Regions from separate parts of the Homo sapiens genome. Here all the other regions are linked to region 4. Evidence: fine-mapped QTL for protein levels in blood plasma. A gene starts in region 4. Each other region holds a variant in brackets. All regions are shown on one strand. Distances are from middle to middle.

Region 1 (5,000 bases), 540 kb after region 4:
GGAGTTTGAGGTTACAGTGAGCTATGGTCAGGCCACTGTACTCCAGACTGGGTGATAGAGTGAGACCCCCCATCTCTAAAAAAATTAATAAAAAATAACAAGAAGAGATCCCTTCATAGAATGTGTATCTAGCTGACTCTCTGGTATGATTCAGGATGCATAAGAAGGCACCTTGACCAAAAAGGTGTCTGACGGTTCCATAGTCAATGCTGTTCTTTACCTGTGAGCCTTCCAGTCTGAGAGGAGGGATGAATTTCACCAGCTGCCATAGAGAACTAGGCTTGGGGAGAATGGAGAAAGGCTAAGTAACTGCTGATTAAAGTTAGGACATGAAACACTAAGTCCATGTGGGGTCCTAAATCAGGTTCACCTGGGTGGGGCAGTCATGAAGGGCAGGCAAAAATGAGGGTATTCAAACAAAATATTTCATGACCGGAGGCAAAGTAGTTGCAACTTTGTGTCCACGTGATTCTCAGATTTACAGAAAAGTTAAGCAGTAATCTTCAGGTCATGCAGAACCTGACCTGGATCCCAGGCTCATTATCCAAATCCAAGGCTGAGACCTTCATACTCTAAGACTGCTGAGTCTGTAAAGCTCTTAAGAAGTACAGTATGTGCTTCCAATTTTTTTATTGGGAAAAGAAATGACCATGTATTGTTTTTATGATCATAAAAAGTCATGAATAAACAATATGTTCATAATCATAAATATCATTAATATAAAATACAAAAATATTCATAAAAACATGACCATTATTGAAGAAGCATTGAAAAATACAGGTAATATGTACATTTCTTAATTATTTTTGTGTACCCTAAATTTCTTTCTTGGCTGGTCAAAATTTCTAATTTTGTGGACAGGTCAAAAGAGAGACAAGAGGAGTGATTTTGTAGTCGTCACTAATCCTTTGAGGAAGGTCAATTCTCACAGGAAAAGCACATATATTCTCCACTCTCCTCACTTAACTAGCTAATGTCTACATTATATTAGTTTGGTTGGAAAGGGGTGATGTCAAAAGAGGAAATTTTTTGAAGCAACCTTTGATTGCTTCAATTAGTATGTGTCTATCTGTCCCACAAAGAGAATATCTCCTTTCACACTCTTTGAAAAGTAATGGCTATATGATCAGATACTTTGGCTTATGGGTGCTTCATTCAATTGTCTACTTAAGAAATATGGCCAGAATTGATAAAAGACTTCAGGTTGGAGAGATCAGGTCATGTTTTGATTGACTCTTTTGCTCCAAGCCCACAGCAATGTTAGGCTAACAACAACAACAACAAATGGAAACCCGGTAAGTTAAAATGAGGCTAAAAATTGGGTAATTCTTCACACCCACTAGAATAATTATAATAGAAAAAAAACAGAAAATAACATATATTGGCAAGAATGTAGAGAAACTGGAACCCTCATACACTGCTGGTGGGAATGTAAAAGGGTGCGACTGCTATGAAAAACAGCTTGTCAGTTCCTCAATAAGTTAAGCGTGGAATTCCCATATTACTCAGCAACTCTACTCCTAAGTATATACCAGAAAGAATTGGAAACAGATATTCAAACAAAAACTTGTACACAAATGCTCATAGTAGCACTATTCATAATAATCAAAGGGCGGAAACAATACAAATGCCCAATAATAGATTAATGAATAAGCAAAATGTGATATATCCATACTGTGGAATATTATTCCCCTGCAAAAATGAGGTATGATACATGCTACAGCATGGATGAACCTTGCAAACATTACACTAAGTCAAAGGAACTATACACAAAAGCCACATACTATATGATACTATTTATCTGAAATATCCAGAGTAGGCAATTCCACAAGAAAGTAGATTAGCAGTTGCCAGGAGCTGGAGAAAGAGATAAAAGTGATTGCTGAATGGATATGGCGTTTCTGTTTGGGGTAATAAAAAGCATCATGGAACTAGATGATGGTGATGGTTGTGCAACATTATAAATGTACTCGATGCCACTGAATTATACACTTCAGTTAACATGGTAAATTTTATATCATGTGTATTTTACCACAGTAAAACAGTTTTGGGGGATTATCATCTTTGTGGACCAGAAGCAGAAATACTAACTACCATGAAGGCTGTAGCCAAAGGCTTGCTGGCATAAGGATCTAGAAGCAGGCCACGGAGACTGTGATTGTGTGCTTAGCTCAAGTGAATTAGAGGGGACCTTAAGAGTTCTCAAAGAGATGAGACAGCAGTGAAGCTCACTGCTGCAAGGTTTATACATTCAGGGGGAGAGAGAGGAAAGGGTGCTATAGAGGTTACTGGACAGTTAAAGCAGACTGATCCCTATATCATATCTAAGAGAGAGAATATAAATACTTAATAAGCCAGTAGAACATAAAGAGAGGGAATAAAAAAGAAACTGCCAGAAAGAAAGACCAAAAAAAATATGTTTAAAAAGGAGAAAAGAAGGGCCAGGCACAGTGGCTCACATCCTGTCATCCCAGCACTTTGGGAGGCCCAGGCAGGCGGATCACTTGAGGTCAGGAGTTAAAGACCAGCCTGGCCAACATCATGAAACCCCATCTCTACTAAAAATACAATAATTAGCTGGGTGCGATAGCACACACCTGTAATCCCAGCTACTCAGGAGGCTGTGGCAGGAGAATCACTTGAACCCTGGAGGCAGAGTGGCAGTGAGCTGAGATTGAGCCACTGCACTCCAGGCTGGGCGACAGAGCAAGGCTCTGTCTCAACAAAAACAAAATGAAACAAAAAACAAAAAAGATGAAAAGAAAGAGAATGGTAGAGAAGAAATACAAACCAAGATAGTAGGAATAGAAAATATCCATAACATGTACAAAATTGCAAGTAAATACTACTTATAAAAGAGATATTTAAAGCAAAACAATATAGAAAGGCTAGAAATAAAGATATGGCAAAAGACACCCTAGGCAAAGTCTTACTAAGAGAAAGCTGGGGAACACCACCCACTGGGGCCTATCAGAGGGTG[G/A]AGGGTGGGAGGAAGGAAAGGATCAGGAAAGATAACTCATGGATACTATTAATAGGTTTAATACCTGGGTGATGAAATAACCTGTACAATAAACCCTCATGACATACATTTACCTATGTAACAAATCTGCACATGCTGTGCATGTACCCCTGAACTTAAAAGTTAAAAAGAAAGCTGGGTATCAAAATTAGTATTAGACAAAACAGTATTTAAGGCAAAAAGCATTCATGTACTCCACAGAGACTGCATATAAAAACAACAAAATATGACTGGAAGCTATAAATCATGACTAGGTATGTATCTATCAATGTAGCTTAAAACACATTAATTAAAAGTTGTCAGAAGTATGAAGGAAATTTAGCAAATGCTAGCATTAAATTTTAACAAAAATCTATTAGAAAATGATAGATTCTGCTGACCAAATAATAGCAAGAATGTGGACACCCTGAATGCTCATATTTAACTAGTTTGAACTAATGGATGTGTAGAGCTCTGCACCCAAGAAATTGAGAATCTACGTTATTTTCAATTATACTAAACCATTTGCAAAAATAATGTCCTAGTTCACAAAGAAATGCCAAACAACAGTGCCACACAGAATACATTTTCTGACTTTAGTGCCATTAAATTATAAATCAAATTAAAAAGATAATTAAAAATGAACATATCTTGGAAATGTAAACATAGCTGTTTTAGTCCATATTGATTTTCCTGCTTCTACTCTTGCCCTCCTAAATTCTATTATCCTCAGAGCAGTCAGGTAATCCTTTTCAAATTCAACACAGATTATGTCACTCTCATGGGGGAAAAAAATCCTTCAATGGCTTTTTGTCACAGCTAGGCTTAAATTCAAACTCCTAACTACAAGATCCTACATGATCCGGTCTGCTACTACCTCCTCAATATTTTTCTTTCTTACTGGGTTTCTCCATATTATTACTACTCCAGCAGGATTGGCCTCTTTCTGTTCTTCAAACAATCCACATACCTTCCTGCCTACAGGAATTTGTACTTCTTTTTCTCTGTGCCTGGAAGTGCCTCCCTCTGTCCTCCATATCCACCTGGTTGCCTTGACCTCCTTGCCTAACACAGTAGCCTCTTTACTCTCCATCCTCTTACTCTTGCTCTCTCTTTCCACATTTCACTTAGCATGGCTTAGAATTTTATTATAAGTCTGATTGTCTATTTTTTTTTTTTTTGAGACAGGGTCTCAAAAAATCAATATGCACTCTGTCGCCCAGGCTGGAGTGCAGTGGGGCGATCTTGGCTCACTGCAACCTCTGCCTCCGAAGTTCAAGCGATTCTCCTGCCTCAGTCTCCTGAGTAGTTGGGAATACAGGTGCATGCCACCATGCCTGGCTAATTTTTGTATTTTTAGTAGAGACAGGGTTTCACCATGTTGGCCAGGCTGGTCTTGAACTCCTCACCTCAGGTGATCCGCCTGCCTCGGCCTCCCAAAGTGCTGGGATTACAGGCGTGTGCTACCATGCCCGGCTGATTGTCTATTTTTTTTTGTCTGTCTCCTCCTAGTATAATAAAAGATCAATGAGGCAGGGACTTTCTTTTGTTTACCCATGCATCCCCAGTGCATACAAGTGTCTCGTACATGGTGGGTACAAAAATATTTTTCACATGAATAAATATCAAAGCCAATATGAGTTCGCTGAGTTCGCTGACTGCCAGAAAGCTTTTAGACTGTGGTACCTAGAAGAGGGGAGGATGGTCCTGCTTTACCCACTACAGTAAGAGCACATCTGGAATACAATGTTCAGATCCAGACCCTACACTTTAAAGAAAGATATTGAAAAAGGTGAAAACCAAGATGGTGACTACTGTATGGCCATGAATTCTGTAATATTGGTGTACATACATAATAATGATTTCATGGTATTCTATTACAGTACGTGATATGATCAGTGATATTACATAATATGTTCACTCTGTTGTTCCTCATTAGCAATGCGTAGTTCAATGAACTGTGAGAAACTGAAACAAATGTGGTTCATTAATGCATTTCCCT
Region 2 (5,091 bases), 570 kb before region 4:
AGGTGTGGAGGCGCATGCCTTTAATCCTAGCTACTCAGGAAGCTGAGGCACGAAAATCACTCGAACCTGGAAGGCGGAGGTTGCAGTGAGCCGAGATTGCGCCACTGCACTCCAGCCTAGGCGATAGAGTGAGACTCCATCTCAAAAAAAAAAAAAAAAGAAAAAGAAAAAGAAAAAAATGCCATGTAGGAAATGACATACAGATAAGCCTTGAAGGATGAAGAGAGAGCTAAAGGGACATTCCAGATGAAGGATCTTCGCAAATAAAGCTACAGTGTGGGGACTATCCAGGTGTAGTCTGGAGAGCAGGCAGAACAGGGAGTGGGGACCACTGGAAGGCTACTGGAGCCATCATGGTGAGAACCACTGGAAATGATGAGCCCTGGGCTCAGCACTTTACATCCTCATGCTAGACCTTGGAGGTAGGTTCCCTTACTACTACCACATTCTTTCAGATAAGGAAATGGAGGTCCAAGGAGGTGACAAGGTCACAAGACTGACTGGTGGTAGAAATAGCACTTAAGCCAGGTCCTTCTGATGCCTCCCCCTGACCTCCTTACCACTGGAATGCCAGGCAGTGGCATTACTGAGGCCTTCCATCTAAGGTACCATTGTCCCAGCACACTTGGCCCGGCATGTCACCTCAGACATGTGGGCACCGAGAGGTCAATCTTTGCCTTAAGCATGGAAGCTAGCTTGATCCCACCTTTTTGAGTTGAGCATCTACGAGACTATCAGGACCTCCTTCACCAAATAGAGGGGATGCATGGGCAAGGAATATGAGGATTGCTGAGGATTTATTATGCTCCGCTGTCTGCTGGTTTCTGTTTATTGTTCTACAGTTGTGTAGGTTGTAGTTACTAGTTCTCCTCGGGTCACACTGGTGTCATCGTGACCCTGGGGCAGATCCCTTTGCCAGAACTAGGGTGGTTGGCCTTTCTTGGGAGACTGGAGTTTAAACTGGTGGTGGTATCCCGAAGGTTAAGTACCGGTTGCTGTTCACGGATTCCTCTCTCCATCGCCCGAGCTTTCTGAGCTGCTCTGTCATGAACTTTTTTTTCAGGTGTTCATAGTAGTGGCTGATCTTTTTCTTGGTCTTCTCTAAAGCGCTCACCTTACAAAAAACAGAGGTGAGGTTAGGATCAAGATCCTAAAGAGGTGAGATTAGGATTACTTCGCAGCAGGGCAGACATCTGTGCTACTGATGGGGGAGTGGGAAAAGTGTCAGCTGGACCCTATGTACATTCCATATACTTTGACTCACAGAGAGCCTATTTCTCTATTTGTAAAAAGCATGCATTAAGCTAGATAACTCCAAGGACTGGCGCAGTGGCTCACACCTGTAATCCCAACACTCTGGGAGGCCAAGGAGGGTGGATCACTTGAAGTCAGGAGTTTGAGAGCAGCCTGGCCAACAAGGTGAAACCCTGTCTCCGCTGAAAATACAAAGATTAGCCAAGCATGGTGGTAGGCACCTGTAATCCCAGCTACTCGGGAGGCTGAGGCAGAAGAGTTGCTTGAACCCAGGAGGTGGAGGCTGCAGTAAGCCGAGACCGCACCACAGCACTATAGCCTGGACAACAGAGTGAGACTCTGTCTCACACTGAATTCTACTTATTTCTTCTATTGTATAACTTCTGTCCTGTCCCCCAAAAGGCGGTAAGGTGTGGGAAGCCAACATCCTATGTCTTATGCATTTACTCCAATGAGCTAGCTACAGGAGAGGATACTAAGAAAAACTGCCACAGGTCTTCACAGTAACTCCAATGTAGTCAGGATGTAAGACACATGCCCAAATATTTCTTTTTTTTTTTCTTTTTTGAGATGGAGTCTCGCACTGTCACCCAGGCTGGAGTGCAGTGGCGCGATCTCAGCTCACTGCAAGCTCTGCCTCCTGGGTTCACACCATTCTCCTGCCTCAGCCTCCCGAGTAGCTGGGACTACATGCGCCCGCCACCACACCTGGCTAATTTTTTGTATTTTTAGTAGAGACGGGGTTTCACCATGTTAGCCAGGATGGTCTCGATCTCCTGACCTCGTGATCCACCCGCTTCGGCCTCCCAAAGTGCTGAGATTACAGGCATGAACCACCGTGCCCGGCCCACATGCCCAAATATTTCTAAGAGAGAAAGTGATCCACTTCCAAAAGAAGCACAGAGTTCAAGGAAGGGAGATATCACGACAAATTTCACTTGGCTGGGCGCTGTGGCTCACATCTGTAATCCCAGCACTTTGGGGGGCCAAGGCAGGTGGCTCACTTGAGGCCAGGAGTTTGAGATCAGCCTGGCCAACATGGGGAAACCCCATCTCTACTCAAAATACAAAAAAAACCTAGCTGGGTGTGGTGGCATGTGCCTGTAATCCCAGCTACTCAGGAGGCTAAGGCACAAGAATCGCTTGAACCCAGGAGGCAGAGGTTGCATTGAGCCGAGATTATGCCACTGCACTTCAGCCTGGGTGACAGAGCGAGACTCTGTCTCAGAAAAGAAAAGAAAAGCTACCCAGAGAAGTTAGCATATAAACTGAGGCTAGGTTTTGAAGGATGGGAGGGTTTGGGGCATGTAGAAACAATGTGGT[G/A]GGTGGTGATCCTGGGAATGTACGTTTTTTAACAAGCCCTCCAGGGGATTCTGATAAGCACTAACATTATCTGAAGACCTAGCACAAGGTTAAGCAAAGGACTTCTTCATAAAGGCCAGTCAATATTGACATGATTACTTGACATGAGGAATTAAAGAGGGAGGGTGGGCACTAAATGTCATAGTTCAAGTCCGTGTTCTCCAAACCTGGCTGAGCATCAGAAGCATTTCAGTTGCTTGATAGAAACGTAGGCCCCAAGGATTCTTGCTTAATAGGGTTTGGATGGGGGCCAGCAATCTCCACTTTTGTCATGCACCTGAGATTATTCTGATCCAGCCCCATTACCAAGTCGCTGCTATTACCACCATTTTCTTTTTTTCTTTTTTTTTTGAGACAGGGTCTCACTCTATTGCCCAGGCTAGGGAGAGTGCAGTGGCACAATCTTGGTTAACTGCAACCTCCACATCTTGGGTTCAAGCGATTCTTGTGCCTCAGCCTTCCAAGTATCTGAGATTACAGGCTTGAGCCACCACACCAGGTTAATTTTTGTATTTTTAGTAGAGACAGGGTTTCACCATGTTGGCCAGGCTGGTCTCAAACTCCCGACCTCAAGTGAGGCACCTGCCTCAGCCTCCCAAAGTGCTGGGCTTACAGGTGTGAGCCACTGTGCCCAACCTTATTACCACCATTTTCTTTTCTTTTCTTTTCTTTTTTTTTTTTTTTGAGAGGGAGTTTCACTCTTGTTGCCCAGACTGGAGTGCAATTATGCGATATTGGCTCATCGCAACCTCGGCCTCCAGGGTTCAAGCAATTCTCCTGCCTCAGCCTCCCAAGTAGCTGGGATTACAGGCATGTGCCACCACACCTGGCTAGTTTTCTATTTTTAGTAGAGAGGGGTTTCTCCGTGTTGGTCAGGCTGGTCTCGAACTCCCAACCTCAGGTGATCCGCCCGCCTCGGCCTTCCAAAGTGCGTGAGCCACCACCCTGGCTTACCACCATTTTCTAGTACACCCCATGACAGTAGGCTTTTTGGCCTCTCTCAACTAGTGATTTTACCTTGAGCATGACTCTTACCAATCAGGGTTTCTCAACCTTGACACTACTGACATTTTGAGCTAGGCAGTGTGTGGTGGAGGGCTGTCCCATACACTGCGGGATATTCAGCAGTGTCCCTGGCCTCTACCTACTAAATACAGAAAGCCACAAAGGGCTGGGCATGGTGGAACATGCCTATAATGCCAGCACTTTGGGAAGCAGAGATGGGCAGATCACTTGAGCCCAGGAGTTTGAGGCCAGCCTGGGCAATATGGTGAAACCCCGTTTCTATTAAAAGTGCAAAACATTAGCTGCGCATGATGGCACGTGCCTGTAATCCTAGCAACCTGGGAGGCTGAGGTGGGAGGATTGCTTGAACTCAGGAGGTTGAGGCTACAGCAAGCTGTGATCATGCCACTGCCCTCCAGCCTGAGCAAAAGAGTGAGACCCTGTCTCAAAAAAAAAAAAAAAGAAAAAAAAAGGAAATTAAAAAAAGGGGATACAAAGATGATGAGAGAGAATGGAAGACATACCTGGTGGTAGTACAGCCCCTGGCTACTTTCCCCAAAAACATTGGCGACTCTGCCCTATCCATCCTTGATTATGTAAACCCAACTTCTCTATCTTGCTCGAACTAGTTCAAGTTCAGTTTATGTTACCTGCAACTGAGAGGATCTTAATAGATCCTATTTTACAAATGAGAAAGCAGAGTCTGGAGGAAGTGTAATTCACACAGGGTCACACAAAGCTGGCTTGCCCATCTATTTCCACTACACCACACCCATGGAAGTGTAGCAGAAAGAGAAATGCCCGGGTCCCTACTCTTCTTTTGGTGTTTGTGACCTTCAAGAGGATCTGGCACCATCTCTTAAGGATCTCCAATTGTTTTTAATGTTAGAATTTTGTGGGCCCATCCAGACTTGACCCTGGAACATGGAAGGAAGCTCAAAAGAGTCAAGAAGCAGGCAGCAGCTGTGCGTGGTGGCTCACTCCTGTAATCCCAGCACTTTGGGAGTCTGAGGTGGGTGGATCACCTGAGGTCAGGAGTTTGAGACCAGCCTGGCCAACATGGTGAAACCCCGTCTCTACTAATAAAACAAAAATTAGACGGGCGTAGTGGTGCATGCCTGTAATTCCAGCTACTTGGGAGGGTGAGGCAGGAGAATTGCTTAACCCGGGAGGTAGAGGTTGCAGTGAGTTGAGATAGCGCCACTGCACTCCAGCCTGGACAACAGGAATGAAATTCTGTCTCAAAAAAGAAAAGAAGGTGGCAGCAGCTCAACCCTGGGCACCCTGCTCTGCTTGAAAGAATGAGTGTGTTTCTGGAGTCCATCTTGTTCACTTGTCTCTTCCTAGCGCCCAACACAGTACCTGTCCCAAGCAGGCCCTAAGGACAGGTTTAATGAATCCATCAATCAGGGTCTATGGGAACAGTGGGGTGACAGCACTCAGGATTTCGAGTAAGCAGGTGAAACTCTA
Region 3 (5,077 bases), 780 kb after region 4:
TGAATCCAGAGTGTTTGGCTGGAAAACCTGTTCTCTCATTTCTTATATTAAATGCTTCTAGATATATGTGAATAATTGATTATAACAATGTGATTACTAATAAAAACAATATTTTTGTGATTGTATTAGCTAGAAGTTCTTAATATGGATATTAATTTTAAGACATATTATTGAATACCTATTGAGTGACTACTGTATTCCAGCCAGAGTGAAAGTTACTCTAAGTATAGGCATTTTGTCCCAGGTAATAAACCATCTTTGATATGTCTCTAAAACCTATAAATTTTTACAGCATCATGAAAAGCAGCTACAACAAATTAGGCACATCCTTCTATAGTGATTCAATAGTTTCATAAAATTAGAATTGATCCAGTAGATTCTCCCTTGACAATTGTGTTTGGCAAGAATCTTTAGCTATTACCTGCGCTCTCAAATGCTTGCAATGAAACCTGTGGTAGGAAAGGAAATGCTCATCTCGTTTTTGGTCATTTTACATATTTTTTAAATCAAAGTTTCTAGAAACAAGTATGATAAAAATAGCTAAACAGCATGCATTTTTCTAAGCACTTTGCATGCTTTCATGTAGATATGTATATATGTATGTACATCTATTGAGGAATAATTTACTTCTAGTAAAACAAACAGATATTAGCTACATAGCCCAATGAGTTTTACAAATCTGAACATCTTTGGGAACAATATTCAAACAGGAGAGGGAACATTTCTATCACCCGAGAAAATTCTCTTATTACTCCTCTTAATCAATTCCCTTCCCCAGAGATTGTGAGTATTCTGATATCTATCACATTTAATGTTTTCAGTCTTAGCTATAATCCGATGAGGTGGTTCTAATTTTGAGGTCTGGATTCTTGGCCACCATACTGTCCTCCTGCGACTCTGCTCAACAGAGACTTAGACCATCTCAACAGTGTTCTCTGAGAGAATGAAGCCACAACTTAATTATGCCCTAACTTCTCTCCTATGTGTCTAGAATATGCACCACCCTTGAGAGAACAGAGAACATGGTCACTCAAATAACCGTCTGCTTTCTTTGGTTCAGTTGAGAAACTCTAGAAAAATAGAGCAGACAAATGTAAACATGTACAGGTCAGATAGCGGGGTCAATGAATGAGGTAGGCATATGCCCTCTCAAAAGGACAGGAGCTGACCACAGGCCACCAGCCACTGTGCCCAAGAAATTACATAGGGAATGCCCATCTTCAGCTTTTTCTAGAAGATCAACATTATGATATCTTAAGATGTTTAAATATTTCATAAGTCAATTAAAACAAACAAACAAAAAAACACTTTGTGAACCAAAATGTACCTATAGTCCAAGCCTTTGGGTTGCCGGTTTATGACCTGCTGTTTGTATCAGCAGCCTGGTAACATCAGAGGGGTGGGGACGCAAACTTTTGAAGGTCTCAGCCAATGCTAGGAGTTAATCTTTCTCACTACCTGGTAAAAATTATGCTGTCCAGACACTGGCCTATTACCAATATTCCTGACCCCTGAGGGAAGCAGATAAGGACTTTGGTAAGCACACACTGAACAAATAACAAAGAGAAAAGAAACTTGCAAGGGTGAATGGAACCCAATAAAGAAAGAGCGAAAGGGCTAGAAAGATTATAGAATAAGAGAGAGGAGAGAAGTCAACCATAGGTAACGATAGGAATGAAAGGAACACAGCGTGGCTCTGTTCCCCGCTGTCCTTATCCTGGAACAATTTTCTTTCATTGAATACACAGTGCCAATATCACAACCCCAATGAGGGTTAGTACAAGATTTTGTCGAATGATTCGTTCGGAGAGAGGAGCTTACCCTGGTATTTATTTACTCTGAACTCAATGAATAGTTTCAGTGGCTGAATATGTCAACTCCAGCAAGTAACAGCAGGGTTTCCAGGCATTCACAATATATTATTTGGAAGTCAAGGTGCTCACAAGACAGTCTGATCCTATCACTCTGGCAAGGAAAAGTGGTCTGAGCAAGGAGGGAGTTTCTAATCCCTGGCAATATAGTTTTTATCAGGGAATTGTGCTTGCTCTAATAGGTGCCATTGCTTTATCAGTGAAAAAGAAGAATAAAGTGATTGCATCCATATCCTCCTACACATCCTGAGCTCCATTAATACAACCACCAACAAAGCTTTCTGAGCAAACCAATCTCACAGGATTTATATACTAAGTGAACCACGGTGACATGTTCCTCCCCAGTCCTACAGACCTGTCTGAGAGGCAGGTCAGAGGCTACAGCTTACATGGTTTCCTTTGTATGAGGCAGTTCACACTCTGCAATAGGAATTTGAAACAATAATGAAGACCTTTCTGTGTGGCAAGAAAAGTGAAACAAAGGGAAATGTGGAATTTCTAGAGAAATTTGGGCAACACAGGAAAAGTAACCCAGATAATTCAGAGTAAAACATCCTTTCCTTTGCTGATTGTTTGAACTCTTTGTTTTACCTTGCTCTACCTTTTTCACTCTTTGTTGATTTGCCTGGTGCTATCTCAGTTCATCTTAACTATATGTATTAATATATTTGACATATTTAAGTGCTTACTGTGTGCAAAAGACAATGCTAAGTGCATTATCTGTACAATCTCACAACACACTATTAGGCAGATACTTTTGTCTTGTCCATTTTAGAGATTAGGAAATTGGGACACATTTTGGAGATGATGTAACTTGCCTATGGCCACACAGCCAGGACCCCAGTCTTCGTTTGAGGCAGACCCTGAGCTCAGTTCACAATATAACCACTTTTCTTCCACAGCAAGATGATACCACCTTCCATTTTTTTCTTTCTTGCTGTGCTTCCTCTCCCTACAATCACCCTCTTCCTTTTCGGTTAACACATGTATGAAGTCCTCACCATGGAATGTGCATTGTTCAGATGACTAAGTTGAGCTCAAGGAGCCATAGTTTTTGTCAGGAGAAGGCTCACTGAAATATGTTCAAAGAAGAGTAAAGAAAGAGTGCAGGAAAAGATGGAGAAATGGGTGAAATGACTCAAGACACCCAGCCTTAAGGGAGACAGACTAAGAGTTATTCTTAAAGAAAAGGAAGAGCCTCAGGATTACAAAAATCATAGGTTGTGAAAACAGAAAACAA[T/G]TCAGAGGTATCAGATCATCTTACAGATAGGAAACCTGAGATCTGAAGATGAATGGAGCCAGGACCTGACCTAAGATTTCTGACCACCTCTACCTTTCCTCCCTCTCTCAACCCCACTTCTGCCCCCAGTACCAGCACGTTCGTCAGACGTGGCTTAGGAAACTATCCAAGATGCTTGAAACCAGAAGTGTTTCTGACTTCAGATTTTTTTGGATTTTTGGAATATTTGCATTATACTTACCATTCAGCATTCCAAATCTGAAAATCCGAAATCAGAAACGTTCCAATAAATAATTCCTTTGAGCATCATGTCAGTGCTCAAAAAGTTTCAAATTTTGAAACATTTCAGAGTTCAGATTTTTGGATTTGGGAAGCTCAACACATGTACAACCAACGATGTAGTATGTGCCCTTGGAGATTTTTTTTTTTTTTTTTTTTTTTTGAGACTGAATCTTGCTCTGTCGCCCAGGCTGGAGTGCAGTGGCGCCATCTTGGCTCACTGCAAGCTCCACCTTCCGGGTTCACGCCATTCTCCTGCATCAGCCTCCCGAGTAGCTGGGACTACGGGCGCCCACCACCATGTCCGGCTAATTTTTGGTATTTTTAGTATAGATGGGATTTCACCGTGTTAGCCAGGATGGTCTCCATCTCCTGACCTCGTGATCCACCTGCCTCGGCCTCCCAAAGTGCTGGGATTACAGGCGTGAGCCACCGTGCCTGGCCTGCAGATTTTTTAAAATAAAAAAGTAAAATTAAAGAAATGTCTTCATCAGGATAAGGCATATATAACACTTTGTTCTCTTTTTCAAAAGTTTATGTTAATAATAAAATGACCATGAGCAGGGCCTTGAACAAGCTTCGCTCCCGGGAATTACTCACCATCTCCACCTGGTCCCTTCACTCAACACTCCCGGCAGTAATGTCTCTGCAAGGAACAAATATGGGTTAAAAATAAGGTCTGAAGAGCCTGCCCCCTCCTTGCCTAGGAAATCTGAACCCTCAGGCAATGCCATTCTTACAAAATGTGCTTTCTGATTACTTCCAGAAGGCAGGGCAGGCTGACCATGCAGTCTCCTGTGGTGAAGTGGCTAAAACAATTCTCTTCACCAAGGCCACTGAGTATCTGCACACCTCCAGTCCAACAAATCAGTGCCTGGTGGCTTTGGCTATTTCTAATACATGTGTTTCATTCCTGTGCCAAGGGCTCCTCCCTCCACCCTCACTGCCCAGTTTGTGTTGTGGCCATTCCTCTCCCTTCACTGCCTCCACCTCTGTCCTGGATTTCTTCCTCTGTATCCTTCCCCCTTCCGCTGCTTACTTTTTCTCTTCAGATGTCAAGAGAGCTTGACTTCTCCCTACTTTACTTCTAAAAAAGAGAGAAACTATAGAGTTTCTACCAAGTTTCAAGCACTGCTCTTTATAATCCTGCAACCTGGAGTTGCTATTTCACGCCTCTTCTGCTCAATGCTTGACGCACGCTAAATATAGAGGAGTATGACACCCGAGCTCATGGAAGGCTCCCTTTTTCATTGGCAGTGGGCTTGACTACGGTTCATGCCAGTTCCTAATCTGTCTTGGCATTTTTCTCACTCATTAGGCACTTTAGAGAAAAAAATAAGGTCACAGTCCATCCTGACTTCTAACTACACCCCCTTCCTTTCCTCAAGCCCTGCAGTCCCCAAACCCTCCCCACACCACCCCAACACGAAGATGAAACTAATAAAGAAAATGTTCATGAACCATCTCTTAAAGATATCCTGCTGCCAGTCCTGTCCCAGGTCCCTCCTCCAAGTACAACACTTGGAAGAAAAAAGAAAATCGCTGGCTGAAAATCCTGACCTTCTACCAACAGGACAGAATGTGTGCCTTCTCATTCTAGGTCTTATGCAGAGGAAGCAATGAGAAATGCTGGCTCTCCACTTTTCTTTCAGCATTAACTTCAGGCTCTTCTATTAGCTACTTGTTT
Region 4 (5,091 bases):
CTACTAAAAATACAAAAATTAGCTGGGCACGGTGGCAGGTGCCTATAATCTCAGCTACTCAGGAGGCTGAGGCAGGAGAATCGCTTGAACTTGGGAGTCGCAGGTTGCAGTGAGCTGAGATCGTGACGCTGCACTCCAGCCTGGGTGACAGGGCGAGACTCTATGTCAAAAAAAAAAAAAAAAGAAAACCTATAGCATAGGTGGGAGAAATGGGGGTAAACATGGAAGGATGGGATCATGGGATCAAGGCTTCTTGAGCTTTTTATATTCCTTTTACTTTTTAACTATTTGAATGTATTATCTAAAGTTTTTAAGAAAATAAACAGGAAATAAAAGTTAAGTGAACATGAAAATGTTCAGAACCAGCTCCCTACACACACAAGAGAGTTAAAGGAGATCTCTAGACCCCTTCATATCTAGACTTTAATGAACTAATAAATTGTTAATGTTTTATAAAGCTGGTCTCAGTAGCAATTCTAGAAATGAGCAGAAAACAAAGTGGTAAAAACAAAACATCGCTGGGCACGGTGGCTCATGCCTGTAATCCCAGCATTTTGAGAGGCCGAGGCAGGTAGATCACCTGAGGTCAGAAGTTCGAGACCAGCCTGACCAATATGGTGAAACCCTGTCTCTACTAAAAATACAAAAATTAGCCGGGCATGGTGGTGTGCGCTCTTAGTCCCAGCTACTTGGGAGGCTGAGACAGGAGAATTGCTTGAACACAGGAGGCGGAGTTTGCAGTGAGCCGAGATCGCGCCACTGCACTCCAGCCTGGGCGACAGAGCAAGACTCTGTCTCAAAACAAAAACAAAAACAAAACAAAACAAAACACAGAAACTGAGGGCTGATGCTTTTAAGAGCCTTGACCAAGTTCATGCTGCTAATAAAAATAACCCCAGACCCCATATTTAATCTATTCTACCTTATGCTTGAATATGGTCATTTGCTGGTTATTAGTTATGTGGGAAGACAAACATTAAATTAATAAAACATAATTTATAGTGGAAAAAATCTGTCACTTAGGGGGCTTATGCTCTCATTCTAAATCACCAATCATGTGCCTTTCGGCAAATCAATTTTCTGAAGTCTCAGATTCCTTGTCTATAAAATGAGAAATTGGCCGGGCGCGGTGGCTATGCCTGTAAACCCAGCACTTTGGGAGGCCGAGGCGGGTGGATCGCCTGAGGTCGGGAGTTCAAGAACAGCCTGACCAACATGGAGAAACCCCGTCTCTACTAAAAATACAAAATTATCCGGGGTGGTGGCACATGCCTGTAATCCCAGCTACTCAGGAGGCTGAGGCAGGAGAATCACTTGAACCCGGGAGGCAGAGGTTGCAGTGAGCCGAGATCATGCCATTGCACTCCAGCCTGGACAAAAAGAGCGAAACTCCATCTCAAAAAAATAAATAAATAAATAAAAATAAAATAAAATAAAATGAGAAATTGATTATGATCTCTTGAGTAACTGCCACTCTGCAATGCTATGGGAAGTACACACATTGAACAAGTTGCATATTTATATTAAATGCCATTTGTTTATATTGAACAAATTTGGTATTTATACCCAATGCATTTAATGGCATAAATGTGAATGACAAAGAAACTCAGGAAGGCAAGACATAGAGGAAGGCCACTGGCTTTTCAGAAACCACTCAGCCTGTGAGCTCACTTCCCTTTTATAAAAAAAAGCTTTTGCTTTTAAGGTGTCCAGATAAAGGTCACACTCCCAGAGCTGAGGCTACGTGAGTCTAAGCTGTTACCTCAGTTATGGGAGTGTGGCTGGAACTCAACACTTTCTGATCATTCATGGCCAAAGCCTCTTGGGGTAGGGGAGAGGGGGCACCTTGTATGCATGAGATGAAACAGGATACCAAGATCCCCTTAATTCTACTCAGAGTAGAGGAAAGGAACTGTTGCCAAAAGGAACATGTTTTTTCTAAATTGAAGAGTTGGAAGTTTGAAGGTCAAAGTCAGAATATTAGAACAGAGAGCCATGCATGTATTATCTAATACAATTTTCTCATTTTATAAATTATATAAATGAGGAAACTGAGACTCAGCAAGGTTATAGGATACAACCTAATCTGTGTTAGAAGAAGGATGAGAGTGAGGCTTATGCTGGGAGTTGCTATGGTCTGTAAATGTGAGGATAAGGAACATGCCATTCACTGTTGTGTTCCACTTCCTAGTCCAGTGCCTGGTGCAAAGTAGGGGCTTCATAAACTTTGGTCACAGGCCTGATGAAGGGACTGATTTGAGTGAATGAATCCATGGATGATGCATCTGTACTTTGTGTTCCCCGCTAGTCAGATGGACTCGGACATGCTCCATTTCAGGTGTATCTCATCTGAGACATTATTAGAGGGTTCTCTTTATGTGCCATGACTGAGTAGCGTTTTCTTCCACTGAAGTATTGCTTCCTCTTTGTTGATATCACAGGACAGACATCAGAACACTTACAGGATGTGTGTAGTGTGGCATGACAGAGAACTTTGGTTTCCTTTAATGTGACTGTAGACCTGGCAGTGTTACTATAAGAATCACTGGCAATCAGACACCCGGGTGTGCTGAGCTAGCACTCAGTGGGGGCGGCTACTGCTCATGTGATTGTGGAGTAGACAGTTGGAAGAAGTACCCAGTCCATTTGGAGAGTTAAAACTGTGCCTAACAGAGGTGTCCTCTGACTTTTCTTCTGCAAGCTCCATGTTTTCACATCTTCCCTTTGACTGTGTCCTGCTGCTGCTGCTGCTACTACTTACAAGTAAGTCTCGGCATGGATATTTACAATGACATAATGGTGCTGTACAGAGGACAAGGGAGAGATACAAGGATGGCCATTGTAATGTTGTTTGTAATAGCAAAAGCTTGGAAGCAACCTAAATGTCCGTCGATGAGGGAGTGGGTAAATAAATGTGATATAATCATGATACAAACAGTGAGTCTGACAAAACATACTGGTATAGAATGTCTCAAAATTATAATGTTATTAAAGAAAAAAAGTTGCAGAATAATGCATATATTAGGCTTCTATTTGTGTGTGTGCATTGTCGGGGAGCAGGAATATGTGGACATTTCTTAATGTATAAGCTCTAGGAAAAGGAACCAGGGAATGGTAAAGAGTTGGGAGAGTAAGGCATATTTTTCTTTTCTTTTCTTTCCTTTTTTTCTTTTTCTTTTCTTTCTTTTTCTTTTTTTCAATTGAGATGGAGTCTCACTCTATTGCCCAGGCTGGAGTGCAGTGGTGGCACCATTTTGGCTCACTGCAATCTCCGCCTCCCAGGTTCAAGTGATTCTCCTGCCTTAGGCACCGGAGTAGCTGGGATCACAGGCGTGCACCACCACACCCAGCTAATGTTTTTAATTTTTAGTAGAGACAGGGTTTTACCATGTTGGTCAGGCTGGTCTCAAACTCATGGCCTCAAGTAATCTGCCCATCTCAGCCTCCCAAAGTGCTGGGATTACAGGCGTGACCCACCGTGTGCCCGGCCACTTTTTCATACACCTTTGATAGTGTTTGAATGTTTTTACTGTAGTTGAGTCATATGAAAACAAAGGGGACATAAAAAATCAAAAGAAAATATATAATGAATGTTTTATCATATATAAAATATATATAGTTTTTTTTTAATGGAATTAACTTTGTCATTTGAGGAAAATGAGGAGACAAGTCTCAATCATTTTAGGAGATTTGTTTGCCAAAGTTAAGGAGGCACCTGAGAGACAGGTCTATGACTTTCTCAGAAGATGATTTTGAGGGCTCCAGATTTAAAGGGGACAAGGTGGGATATTGAGAAGCACTCAGTTTTCACATAAAAAAGGGGGGGGGGCAGAGGAAAAATATGGGGAATCTGCATTTTACATTAGATAACACAGACAAAATGGGGTAGGGAAACAATCAGATAACGCATTTGTGTCTGGCCAGGGTGACCGCACCGGTAAAGATGAGCTATCAATCTGCATTGCACAGCTGACCAGGAATTTCCTTGTGGGCAAAATATGGGGGAGGTATGCAGCCTTTCATCCTGTAGCCATCTTATTCAGGAATCAAAAAGAGGAGGCAGGTTTCTGTGACCCAGTTCCCAGCTTGACTTTTCCCTTTGACTGAATGAGTTTGGGGTCCCAAAATTTAATTTCTTTTCACAACTTTAAACCTTAAAACAACTCCATGAGTAGTTTCAAATACACAAGATCCTTATTTAACCAAGGGTTTGTATTTACTGTGCACTTGCTGCTTAAAAAGAGAAGTATGTTAGGAGAGCCTCCCTTTGTTGATGAACAAGCAAGTAGCCCAGATGGGCGGGCCGTTTCCTGGCTGACCATGACTAATTTTCTGATTGTCTGTTTCCATCAGCCCTGTTCTCCCGTGTTCACAGAATTGGGCCACAATTCTCTCCTAGGGCAGTGTTTCTGAAAGTGAGGTTCTGAGACCAGCCACTTCAGCAACACTTGAGAACTTGTTAGAAATAAAAGTTCTCAGGCTCTACCACAGGCCAACTGAGTCAGGAACTCTAGCAGTTGAGCCCAGCAATCTGTGTTTTCGCAAGGCTTCCCAGTGATTCTGATGGCCTTCACATCTGAGAAGCATTGTCACAGCGAATCATCCTCCAAACAGGACTGCAGCAGTAGCTTCCTCTTTATTCTGTAAGACATGGCTTGCAGTTTTCCTGAAATGGAGTAACCTCACTCACCGCTTGAGTCTTGGCTCTCCTTCTCTCTCTATGCAGGGTCCTCAGAAGTGGAATACAGAGCGGAGGTCGGTCAGAATGCCTATCTGCCCTGCTTCTACACCCCAGCCGCCCCAGGGAACCTCGTGCCCGTCTGCTGGGGCAAAGGAGCCTGTCCTGTGTTTGAATGTGGCAACGTGGTGCTCAGGACTGATGAAAGGGATGTGAATTATTGGACATCCAGATACTGGCTAAATGGGGATTTCCGCAAAGGAGATGTGTCCCTGACCATAGAGAATGTGACTCTAGCAGACAGTGGGATCTACTGCTGCCGGATCCAAATCCCAGGCATAATGAATGATGAAAAATTTAACCTGAAGTTGGTCATCAAACCAGGTGAGTGGACATTTGCATGCCATCTTTAT
Region 5 (5,091 bases), 950 kb after region 4:
GTGCAGAAAATGAAAATGATTTCTTTTTTTTTTTTTTTTTTTGAGACAGAGTCTCGCTCTGTCGCCCAGGCTGGAGTGCAGTGGCATGATCTCGGCTCACTGCAAGCTCCACCTCCTGGGTTCACACCATTCTCCTGCCTCAGCCTCCCGAGTAGCTGGGACTACAGGCGCGTGCCACCACGCCTGGCTAATTTTTTGTATTTTTTTTAGTAGAGACGGGGTTTCATCATGTTAGCCAGGATGGTCTCGATCTCCTGACCTTGTGATCCACCCGCCTCGGCCTCCCAAAGTGCTGGGATTACAGGCGTGAGCCACCGCGCCCGGCCGAAAATGATTTCTTTTGATAATAATATTGGTAGATTCCAAAACCAGAAATCAGTTCGTGTCATTTCTGAGTGCCTGTTGAGTGATGCCTGGTCATAGCTTTGAGGTAATGGAGTAAATTTCAGCATAAGGAGTCAGTGGAATGTACTACCTCAGGACAGAAAAGAAATAAAAGAAGCCATTATCTAGCACCATGTAAAGTTTCAGGTCAAACAGGTCTGGTTTACTAGGTGGAGAAAGCACAGTAAGCACAGCTGAGGACTGACTATGCCTCCCTCTATGAGGAAATTATGTGTGGTTAATGGTGGTGTCTGTTAACGGACTTTGAGACAAAGTACATCAGAGTCATGCCAAGCTAGTAGATTCCTCCATGGCTCTGATGGGCTCCTACGGAAACATGGACTCTGACAGGGTTCCTCAAAACTTGACTCTCACTCCTACATGTCTCACTCCTCCATTTGCATACACAAGTGGTGAGTTGATATGAATATCTTAACTATTTAGTATCTTCCTCAATCCTTAGTACTTTAGTATTTTCTTATAATCCCTCATTTGGGAAAGTGGAATCCAGCATTTTCCAAATGGAAGAAAGTTTATCATGGATCAATGAGAGAAAGGAGAAAAAACAATAGTGAAATGTTTGGCTATTGAATTTAAAAGTCTCTGCAATGCACCTTAAGAAAGAAAAGATGTAGAGAGAAGCTGGGCTACATTGCCATCCCAATACCCACCAGGCAAGCAGAGAAAAGCAAGCCTGTTAGCTGGAGGAGAAGGAGGGAAGTTAGATAAACACCAAGATGATTAGATGACATGAAGATAAATGGCTGCCTTGCCTCATCCCCCAGGGTTAGTGTGTGGGCTATTATAGAACCCATTCAAGTTAAGGATTTTAGAGTCAAGGGGAATTATGGTTCATACCCTACATGTAATTCAGGAGGCAGAATGTTTTAGCTGTGCCCTAAGCCAGTGTTTTGATGTGCATGTGAATTGCTTTCTGCAGATCTAGAGGAACATGAGGGAACAGTAAACAGCTTCCCATCTTCTGAGCAGGGAGAAGGCATCAGTTGAGAGAACAGGAGGTTCAAATAGTCCTCAAGGACAAAACGATGGGGGAATGGTGATGAGTACAATGCACCATCTCTTCAGAAACCATAGTAGGACATGAGAGGATGATTGCACATCTCAGCTGAGACCAAAGAAAAAAGGGAGTCAAATCCAAGACTGACTGATTTATTCAGCCCTACCTGGTTCCCTGGTCCTTGACCACTTGCTCAATGGAGAGCTGCACACACTATTAAGACCTCACGCCACACTGCAGAACAACCTCCATCACACACACCTCAAAAGGGGTCTCTGGCTACCAAGTTTAACACCCTCATAACACAGAGTCTCTGACTCCTCCCTTCTAGACTCAGGTGCAACACTGCTTATTGAACATGGGAGGTAGCTTCCCCAACAGTAGCCTGGAGAGGTTGTTTGAAAATCTCAGAAGTGTAGACAAAATATTGACCAATGGAAGGAAGGAATCTGTGTTTATTTGCAAAACTGCAGCCAGTTTTGTAATTTAACTTTTTGTGCTTCCTTCCTTCCTTGGCTTACCTCTCTTTATCCACTCCACCCCCACCCCCACCACCCTGGGACTACAAACTCATTAGCAGGTAAATTCTGTCACACATTCTGTTTCCTAGAGAATCTAGGGTAAGGAACCCTGGCACTTGAAATTTACTCCAGAAAGGAATATGAGTGGGGGGAAATCAAAAGTTTGACCTGAAATTAACAATAAATGACTGCATGTGACTGAATTTAACAGTCAAAACTAGACTGGGAGGCTGATGGAACTGAGGCT[G/T]TAGAAAAAGAGAGTTACATTTTCATACATCTGACTTTGTGACTTTGGAATAAAACAGTTGCTATATTCAGAAACATTAAGAAGTTCACGCTTCTTAATTTAAACATATAATTATGATTCAAAATTAAGGAAGATCCAGGAAGTAGGAAGGAAAGATGAGGAAAATGTTCATGTCTACACTGCAAACATATAATAGTTCTCCCATCTCTTCTGTATCACTCATTTCTTGTTTTACAGTAGAATTAGAAAGTATAAGCAGTGACTAAGAAGTTAACATAGAAGAGCATGGGTTTAGGTGTCCAACATATATAGCCTTGGTTTTATTTCTGCAATTCACCAGCTTTGTGCCCTTGGGCAAGTTACTGAAGCTCTCAGTCTCTTCATCCATAAAACAGACAACAGACGATGCCCTTGGGATTTGCTCTAAGGGCAAACATATAGTTCTTAGTCCTGTGACTGGAAAGCGGTAAGCACTTAATTACTGTGAGCTATGATTACTATTATCAAGGTGTTTGGTTGAATGAAATTTGAGGAACTAACCTGTCAATGAGAATTTTCTCTGTGATATAAAAGTGAATGTTTACTACAGAGTTTGAAGCAAAAATAAAGCTTTTCTTGTTCTCCATCCTACATAAAAACTTTTCCATTCTCCCAAAAGTAAAATAGACGACAGGGTATCTTCAGGATAAAACAAAAATTCCCGATCTTTGATATGTTCGTGCATTGATTCCCTTAGTTTCAAAAATATTTATGATAGATATCTGGAAACAAAGCCATAGACACTTGTAAGTAAAAAGACACATGGTAAAGAAATGTATTATGCCAATATCTAAGCAGGCTATAAGGGTAATCCAGTCTGCTGTCTATTTTTGCAAATCAAGTTTTATTGGAACTCAACCACAGCCATTCATTTACGTATAGTCTATGGCTGCTCTTGCATATAAGGAGAAAGTTTTGTCCTGACAGAGGCCTTGTGCTACACAAAGGCTAAAATATTTACTATCTAGCTCTTTAGAGGAAAAATTTGCTGGCCTCTAATCTAAGAGAAGAAATTAAGGGAAGAGGCAAGAATAGGACAAACAAGTTGGAAGAAAAGACAGAAAATATCAAGTGAAGTAGCTTCAAACAATAAGCTACTATTACGTGATGATGGGCACACATGAAGAAGAGGCAAAAAAAAATCAGAAACTTAAATCAAGCACAATGTTAGCAAAGGCTAAAGGCGTAAATGCTATAGAGGGCTAAATATTGAAATCAAGAATATATGTGCAATTTCTTCCTCAAAATCTTAAAATAAAAATGCTTCCTCTTAGGAAATATAACTCAACAAAGCACTTATAATAAGAGATACCCTCTTATATGAACTGAATCCAGCAATAATTAGATTTAATTTGTTACAGTTGTTGATTTATATGATTCTGGACGCATCTTGAGACTATAAAGAATATTTTTAAATAAATGTGATTTTGTGGCATTTTCACATTATTACTTTTAATAAATGAATTGCAGGAATAAAATATAGAAAGTGAAGCTTTTTTAATAGAAAAACTCGGAAGACCAATTATTTAAGAATTTCAAATTAGTATATATAAGACTGATGCTGGAAGAGATCTTTGTGCTGATATATCTTAGTTAAAAATAAATTTCATTGCCTTCTAGTTTCATATTATAATCTCTTAATAATGTAGCTTAAGATGATGACATATTTCCTTTTCTGAGATAGTGTTATTTATTATGTAATTATTACAACTCATGGCAAAGCACTTGTGAAAAATATGTCTTAAAGATTTGAAAATATGTGTAAACTGTTTCAGACAGATTTCAGTTCGTGAATTATACTGACTGAAATATTAACTGAAAGCTAATTTACTAAAGAACACATTTCTTTGTTTAAGAACCCACAATTTGCTATTTTCTTTCAAACTCAAGTCTTCCATGGGACTTAAGAAAAATATGTCAGCTTTTCTTGATAATCAAAAACACTTTCCAAAAATCTACATATTTAACAATACAAGATTTGTTAAAGAAGGTATTCTCATGTAGCCATTAAAATTACGTTGGAATAATTCATGACAAGAAAAATGCTTACAATATATTAAATAAAAACTTTACAATGGATTTCAATTATGTAAGAAAAATATCTGTGTAAATATTTATAAAAATGCACAGTGATCACCTCTGAAATTGGGAAATTAATGATTCATTTTCCTGTAGATACTTTTCTATATTTCATGAATTTTATTTATCCAATGTTTATTCTAGCTGTAGTTAACAGAAGTAATAAATTCTACTAAATGTTTCATAAACAGTATTTAAATATCCAAAATTGGTTATTACAATCTGAAAAAAATACAGCCTCTTCTGAAGCCAAAGGTATGATAGGGTTTTTGTTTGTTTATTTGTTTTGTTTTGTTTTTTTTATGAGTGGTTCAGAGAAAGATAATATGTATCCTGGCTGAGACTCAAATTTCCAGATGCTAGATTTTTTTCATTTGCTTAACTCTAATTTCAAAGAATAGATAATTTAAAATTAATAATCATGTCTTTAAAGTTTAAATTATTCCAATTACTCAGTAAATATTCAGAACATAAAGTAAAATCTACGTAATTTTGTTCTTTAAGGAAGTTTATAGCTTTTACTTATGACTATATTCTGATGAATTACAACCACATATTTTTGCACACATAGCACTAGACATTTTTTAAGGCTCTTTGGTTATTTCATTTGACCTTCCAAATAATCTTGCAAAATAGCCAAGACAGATATTACCATTCCTATAATGGTGGAAATGAGGCTCAGAGTGCTGGTCACATACGCTAATAAAAGTTGAGGAATGAGATGGGAATTGCAAATCCCATTATTTTTCAAAGATAGCATGCTGCTTCTCAAAACAATGATGATAAGTCTTCTGCCTTCAAAG
Region 6 (5,091 bases), 990 kb after region 4:
ATATAGACAATGCAGGCTTCCTTCAGTTTCTACCATTGTATCTTTACCTGTGGTAACACATCCCATAAGTGATGGTATCTTTTCAAGATAGAAAAGATCTTTCCTTTAAGAGACAAAGTAAAGAGAAGAAGGTCAGGGAAAGGGGGAGGAGAAAGGCTGCAAATATGGATAAATATCTTTAAATGTTCACATTTGTCTTAGAAAATAATAAAGTCACAAACTCATACCTTAGCAGTCCTAAACTTTTTGAATCCTGGACATAAATTTCAGGGCAACATTGGGATTAAGAAAATCCCCTCAGGCCACCACAAAAGGGACGGTTGTCTCAGCCTTCACACAGGTTCCAGTATAACCTTCTTCAAATCCCTGAGGATGGAGGTTTCTTCCAAGTCTACAAAATCAACAGAGAAAGACAATGTCCATAAAGAAAAACAAAAACAAGACAGAGTGATATTAAATTAAAGGCCATTTGGTTTGGAGAGACTAAACAAAAGATACTTTAGATTCTGTTTGTCATAAAATTGCAGAATCCCTGAATGGATTCAGTCTTGACTGAATTAAAGAATCATACCAAAAAAAAATTTCATAGTATATCAAGGCTGGAAGGTATTTTAGGACTTAACAAATCAAATTTGCTCATTTAACTTACAGGGAAACTGAGGATGGGAGAGCAAAAGCGATTTTCCATGATAATTCATTGTCTGTGGCACAGTTCAATCCGTGTGTCAAGCAAATCTTTAGTATACAAAAACAATGTGTTTAACACTGGTCTATCATCAAAGCAAGACAAGGAGACCGTGCATCACTCCACCTTGAAATACCTCCCTCTCTTGACTTCTAAGGTACCAATCTTACTGCGACCACTGGCCACTCCATCTTGGCTACCTCTATTGCATCTTTTCAACCTCCCAATTTCCAACATAAGGAGATCTTAGGGCTCAGTCCTGAGCCTCTTCTCTATACACACTTTCTCACCAGGTACATCTTCCAGGTCCACAGCTTGAGATACCATTTATACTCTGACAACTCTGAGATTTGTCTCCAGGCCCAGATATTTCCCCGAACTCTAAACTCAATCAACTGACTCTTCAACAACTCTACTTGGGCATGTCAGATATAAGATGACCCAACTGAGGTCATGACTTAGTCATCAGCACCACCAGCTTCCACCTGGAAAATACTAAAGCCCTCCTTCTTCTAAGTTTATGCCTTCTCAGTCAATGGCAATTTTATTCACCCAGTTGGTCAGGCCTAAACCCTCCAAGTAAACCTTGATTCCTGTCTTGCCTATATACCTCACATTGTCCATTTCATCAGCACATTCTGGTGGCACTATCTTCAGAATAAATCCAGCAGCTGACCTTTTTTTTTTTTTTTTTTTTTTTTTTTTTTTTTTTTTTTTTACCACATCTTTTACTACCATGCTGGTGCAAGACATCATTAAAGATCTACAAGGTTGCACAGCAGGCTCTCTCAGACTAGGGCTGGTACTCTCCACCAGACCCATGTAAGAGAATGACACTCCCCTGCTCAAAACCTTCCACCTCACTCAGACTCAAAGTTAAAGTTGTTGCAATGGCCATAAAGATCCTGCTTGATATTTGATGCATCTCTCTTACCACCGTCCTCATCTTCCACTCTTTTCCCCCTCATTTATTCCTCTCTAGCCATGCTGCTCCTCTAACACACCTCTGATTCTATTAGGAGCCTTTGAACTCATCATTCCCTCTACCTGGGAAACTTTTCTCCTCACTGTTTCACGTCTTTGCTCAAATGTTACCTTTCCAGTGAGGACCCTTGTAAAATTACCCTGTTTAAAATTGTAAACTCATACCACATATCTCATCCCTCTTTCTCTAGATTTAAAAGTCTTTTTGATGTATTACATGTCTACCTGTTTATTATCTGTCATCCCCCAATAAAATGTAAACTCCATGCATGCAAGAAATTCTATCTCGGGTATTCTGCTGTGTCTCCAGCACTTCACTTCACTGATAGCCTTGCACAGAAGTGGAGCTCGATAAATATTTTTTGAATGAATGAATAAGCAGACAGTAAGGTTAAGTAAACCTCATGGCCACTCAGATGATAAGTGGCTGAGCCTGGTTTGAACCAAAAGCATTCCATCTCCAGTATTTTTGACAACTATGGAATACTGACTAGATGAATGTCTTCTAGTGTTGGGCTTAGGAAAAGGATTTGTATAGTCTGGAGTGTGATGCAAAAGATGAATGTTAGTTGTATTTGGGAAGCTAGCAAACAAAAGCCCCAAAACTATTTCTAGGAGATACTCTAAAGAGTATGTGTGGCATGTATTGGGATGACTCTGCTTACAGGCTAATACTGAAATCTCATTGTTACTTTCATCATGCTGTTTTCAGATTTTCTGCCTTTGCTTCCATGCCATTATTTCTTGTCATTCCCTCAACTCTCAGCCCCTGCTTTACTATAAAAAGTATGAAGTAAAGGAATCCAGGGTTAGACAACAAAAAAGGGAAGAGATGCATTTAGGGAAAAGGTATTGGGCAGTCATCAAAGGACTTTAGATCTAAATCTAATTTGGTCACCAATTTGTCATTTGCCTTTAGGGTTGTCCCTTCCTTTCCCTGGGGTACCCCTCATTTTTATTTTGTTACCCCTCATTGCGGTAACATAAATACCTTTGAAGATCTTCAGCTCCCAAAAATGATCATTTTCTTTTTTTAACTGATAAAAGGCTCCCTTATCCTCAGTAGTCTAAAAGTGGTTAGGAAATATGGTGCAATGTTTAAGAACTAGGCTTTGGGGTTTACTACTGCGGTTCAGGTTCCGGTTCCACCACTGTGGAACCCTGGCCAAGATAATCAACTTCTCTAAGTATCATATTTCTTTTCTATAAAAGAGAGATGATGAAAATACCTATCCCTCTAGGATGTTTATGCAAAAGAAATGAAGTCATAGGTAAATCATTCATTACTGTACATAATGTTAGTGCTCAATAAACTTTTACTGTTCTTTATTTTTAAAGTTTTTACTGCTGCAGGCTTATATTCTGCATGACATTTCATAAATGTATCTACCTTCATCTTAGTTCCCACTGGATTCTGAATCTTTCCATCTTTTATCATATGACATTGCTTTTGTAGCCCTTAATGA[C/G]TTTGGGCAACTTTGTCTGGACCATCTCCAGGATCAGTTGTATGCAGCTACCCCAGCTGCCCCCACATTCCTGGGCAGATGGCGGAACATTGTAACATGAGAAAGTCATGTTTTCTGATTCATTTATTGTCTGCTTTCTCGTACCCGGCAATTTGAGGATGATCTTGGCCTCGGTTCTGGAATGTCAAGGCACAGTCTACAATTATTCCTGCATTCTGAAGCCAAGAGACACAACATTGGAAGCAAACAATGCTGTAATTCAGCACAATGATAGATGGAGTTATTAAAGAAATTGTGCTGACTGCTTTGATAATTCTAGTCTCAAGTCTATCCAAATGCATCTTTCTTTCTTCTTTTCTTAACTGATATTAAGAAACTGTCTATGTTCAGGTAGTAATGACATAAAAATATGTCACCTACCTTTCAGGTTTAGTTACATCCCAACCTAATAAATAGTTACAATGCTTCAGAGAAAAGGTACTTACAATCCATTCTAAGTCATCCAAGGACATGATCCAAAGCACATTTACAAAGCAAATGTTTATGAAATATATAATCTTTGCCATGCACTTTGTTAAAGACTGGGGATATGGTAGAGGATAATAGTGACTTTATTCCTACCTTCATTAAGCCTTTGTTCTAGCAGTTTTTCTTTATCTTTTGTAATTTCCTAACGTTGCCCAGATATGAGTAGACATGACAAATTCCTACAAATTTGTTGATTATCTCAAGTAGTGATATAGCGTGTGCTGACATAAATATCTCAATTTCTGCTTGATAGAGAGAGACAATTCTATAATTCTTGGTTTTCTTGGGAACAACACTCATTTCCTTACTTTGCTCCTCACCTCCCACCCCTACACACCTCTTTCTGCTTTATTTCCCTCCTTCAACAAAGAAACAAAAAAGTATTCACCAAATTCCACTACCCATTAACAAGATGCCACATGGCACAGTAAAGGACACTAGGTCCAGAGGGCACAGCTTCAGAAATTAGCTTTTTCGAAATCCTTGGAAATAATAAAGGGATTAATGCTATTATATGGTAAAATAAAATGAGAAAGTATATACTAGGAATAATGTGAAAGAAAATAATGTCAAGAAAGAACAACATATGTCTTAAATCACCAGTGTCTGCATGGGAGAGTGCTAATCATAGAGGTAGGTGGCATCTCTGCCTGTCAGGCGGCCTTGAACGCTTCAGGGAATCTGTCATTTTTCAAAAGGTATCAATTAGTGGTTGCTCTGATGGCAGAGTGTGAACCACACCTCTCTAATGGTTAGGTTGTGTTAAAAATGATTCCTGTGAGCATAAAGCACACACAGACACGGGTTTCACAGATACCCTGGCACCAAGACAGACTCCCAAGAGAGGTGGGCATCCCGAGAAGGCAAAACCAGGGAGAGTGGGAGCAGCAGAAGGTATTAGCAACTCTAAGTGGGTCTTAAGATTTTTGAGCAGAAGTGTGCTGGGGGAAAGGATGAACTATGGATCCAAATGTATCTAATGACGAATTTAAATTTAAAACTATGCCAACAGATTTGGGTCCTACTGGGAATTAAAGAAGCATTGCTGTAAAGATTTACCTCTTAAGAAGTGTGATCGTGGAGATACCATATAGGTATACACACCTACACACAGCATTCCTGTTGCCAACAATGCTTCCCAATATGTGTATTACTCTATTTGCATAGAAGGAAATTGAGTTTGGAGACATTAAGTAATCTGATTGAAATCACATAACTAGGAAGTGACAAGTCGGGATTCAAACTCAGAACTGACCCTGGAGCATATTGACATTCAGCAAACATGCTGAAAATCACCATTGCTTCTTTCCTAGGTTTTATTTCTGATTAAACCTAGTTCTGACACTCAGAAATGACACAACTTAAAATCCAAAGGAATATCTCAGTCTCCTAATAGTCTAACTGAAAACTGGCCCAGCTCAGTCTCTG

Which allele goes with the higher level. Positions count from the first base shown, and alleles are read on the strand shown. Strength reflects both the effect of a copy and how common the allele is.
For the plasma level of the protein whose gene starts at base 2,645 in region 4, allele A in region 1 goes with a lower level than allele G (moderate association).
With allele A in place of G in region 2, the plasma level of the protein whose gene starts at base 2,645 in region 4 is higher (moderate association).
As copies of G replace T in region 3, the plasma level of the protein whose gene starts at base 2,645 in region 4 goes up (moderate association).
In carriers of allele G in region 5, the plasma level of the protein whose gene starts at base 2,645 in region 4 tends to be higher than with T alone (weak association).
With allele C in place of G in region 6, the plasma level of the protein whose gene starts at base 2,645 in region 4 is lower (moderate association).

The links. PIP is the posterior inclusion probability: the model's chance that the variant is causal. The UK Biobank Pharma Proteomics Project read protein levels with antibody pairs (Olink). The fine-mapping took linkage between variants from a reference panel, not from the people measured, so its PIPs are less certain.
Region 1: its variant is fine-mapped to the plasma level of the HAVCR2 protein (UK Biobank, PIP above 0.99).
Region 2: its variant is fine-mapped to the plasma level of the HAVCR2 protein (UK Biobank, PIP above 0.99).
Region 3: its variant is fine-mapped to the plasma level of the HAVCR2 protein (UK Biobank, PIP 0.92).
Region 5: its variant is fine-mapped to the plasma level of the HAVCR2 protein (UK Biobank, PIP above 0.99).
Region 6: its variant is fine-mapped to the plasma level of the HAVCR2 protein (UK Biobank, PIP above 0.99).

The regions. Positions count from the first base shown.
Region 1 is chr5:156,568,786-156,573,785 of GRCh38, reverse strand. The region is part of intron 4 of SGCD (sarcoglycan delta); the gene reads right to left. Among named protein-coding and RNA genes, the nearest start is that of SGCD, 240 kb to the right of the region's middle. The variant G/A (reference allele first, on the strand shown) is at 2,981.
Region 2 is chr5:157,675,864-157,680,954 of GRCh38, reverse strand. C5orf52 (chromosome 5 open reading frame 52) reads right to left here. Exons shown (of 3, transcript NM_001145132.2): 3 at 797-1,114. The coding sequence ends at 956. Among named protein-coding and RNA genes, the nearest start is that of C5orf52, 6.9 kb to the right of the region's middle. The variant G/A (reference allele first, on the strand shown) is at 2,578.
Region 3 is chr5:156,328,493-156,333,569 of GRCh38, reverse strand. It overlaps SGCD (sarcoglycan delta), which reads right to left. Exons shown (of 9, transcript NM_000337.6): 2 at 3,991-4,036. The coding sequence starts at 3,993. All of the region lies in intron 2 of LOC124901120 (a long non-coding RNA gene), which reads left to right. Among named protein-coding and RNA genes, the nearest start is that of SGCD, 3.9 kb to the right of the region's middle. The variant T/G (reference allele first, on the strand shown) is at 3,112.
Region 4 is chr5:157,106,598-157,111,688 of GRCh38, reverse strand. HAVCR2 (hepatitis A virus cellular receptor 2) reads left to right here and starts at 2,645. Exons shown (of 7, transcript NM_032782.5): 1 at 2,645-2,763; 2 at 4,727-5,062. The coding sequence starts at 2,706. RefSeq lists an enhancer at 2,709-2,858.
Region 5 is chr5:156,158,974-156,164,064 of GRCh38, reverse strand. It overlaps a transcript of SGCD not described here. Among named protein-coding and RNA genes, the nearest start is that of SGCD, 170 kb to the left of the region's middle. The variant G/T (reference allele first, on the strand shown) is at 2,171.
Region 6 is chr5:156,119,156-156,124,246 of GRCh38, reverse strand. It overlaps a transcript of SGCD not described here. Among named protein-coding and RNA genes, the nearest start is that of SGCD, 210 kb to the left of the region's middle. The variant C/G (reference allele first, on the strand shown) is at 3,136.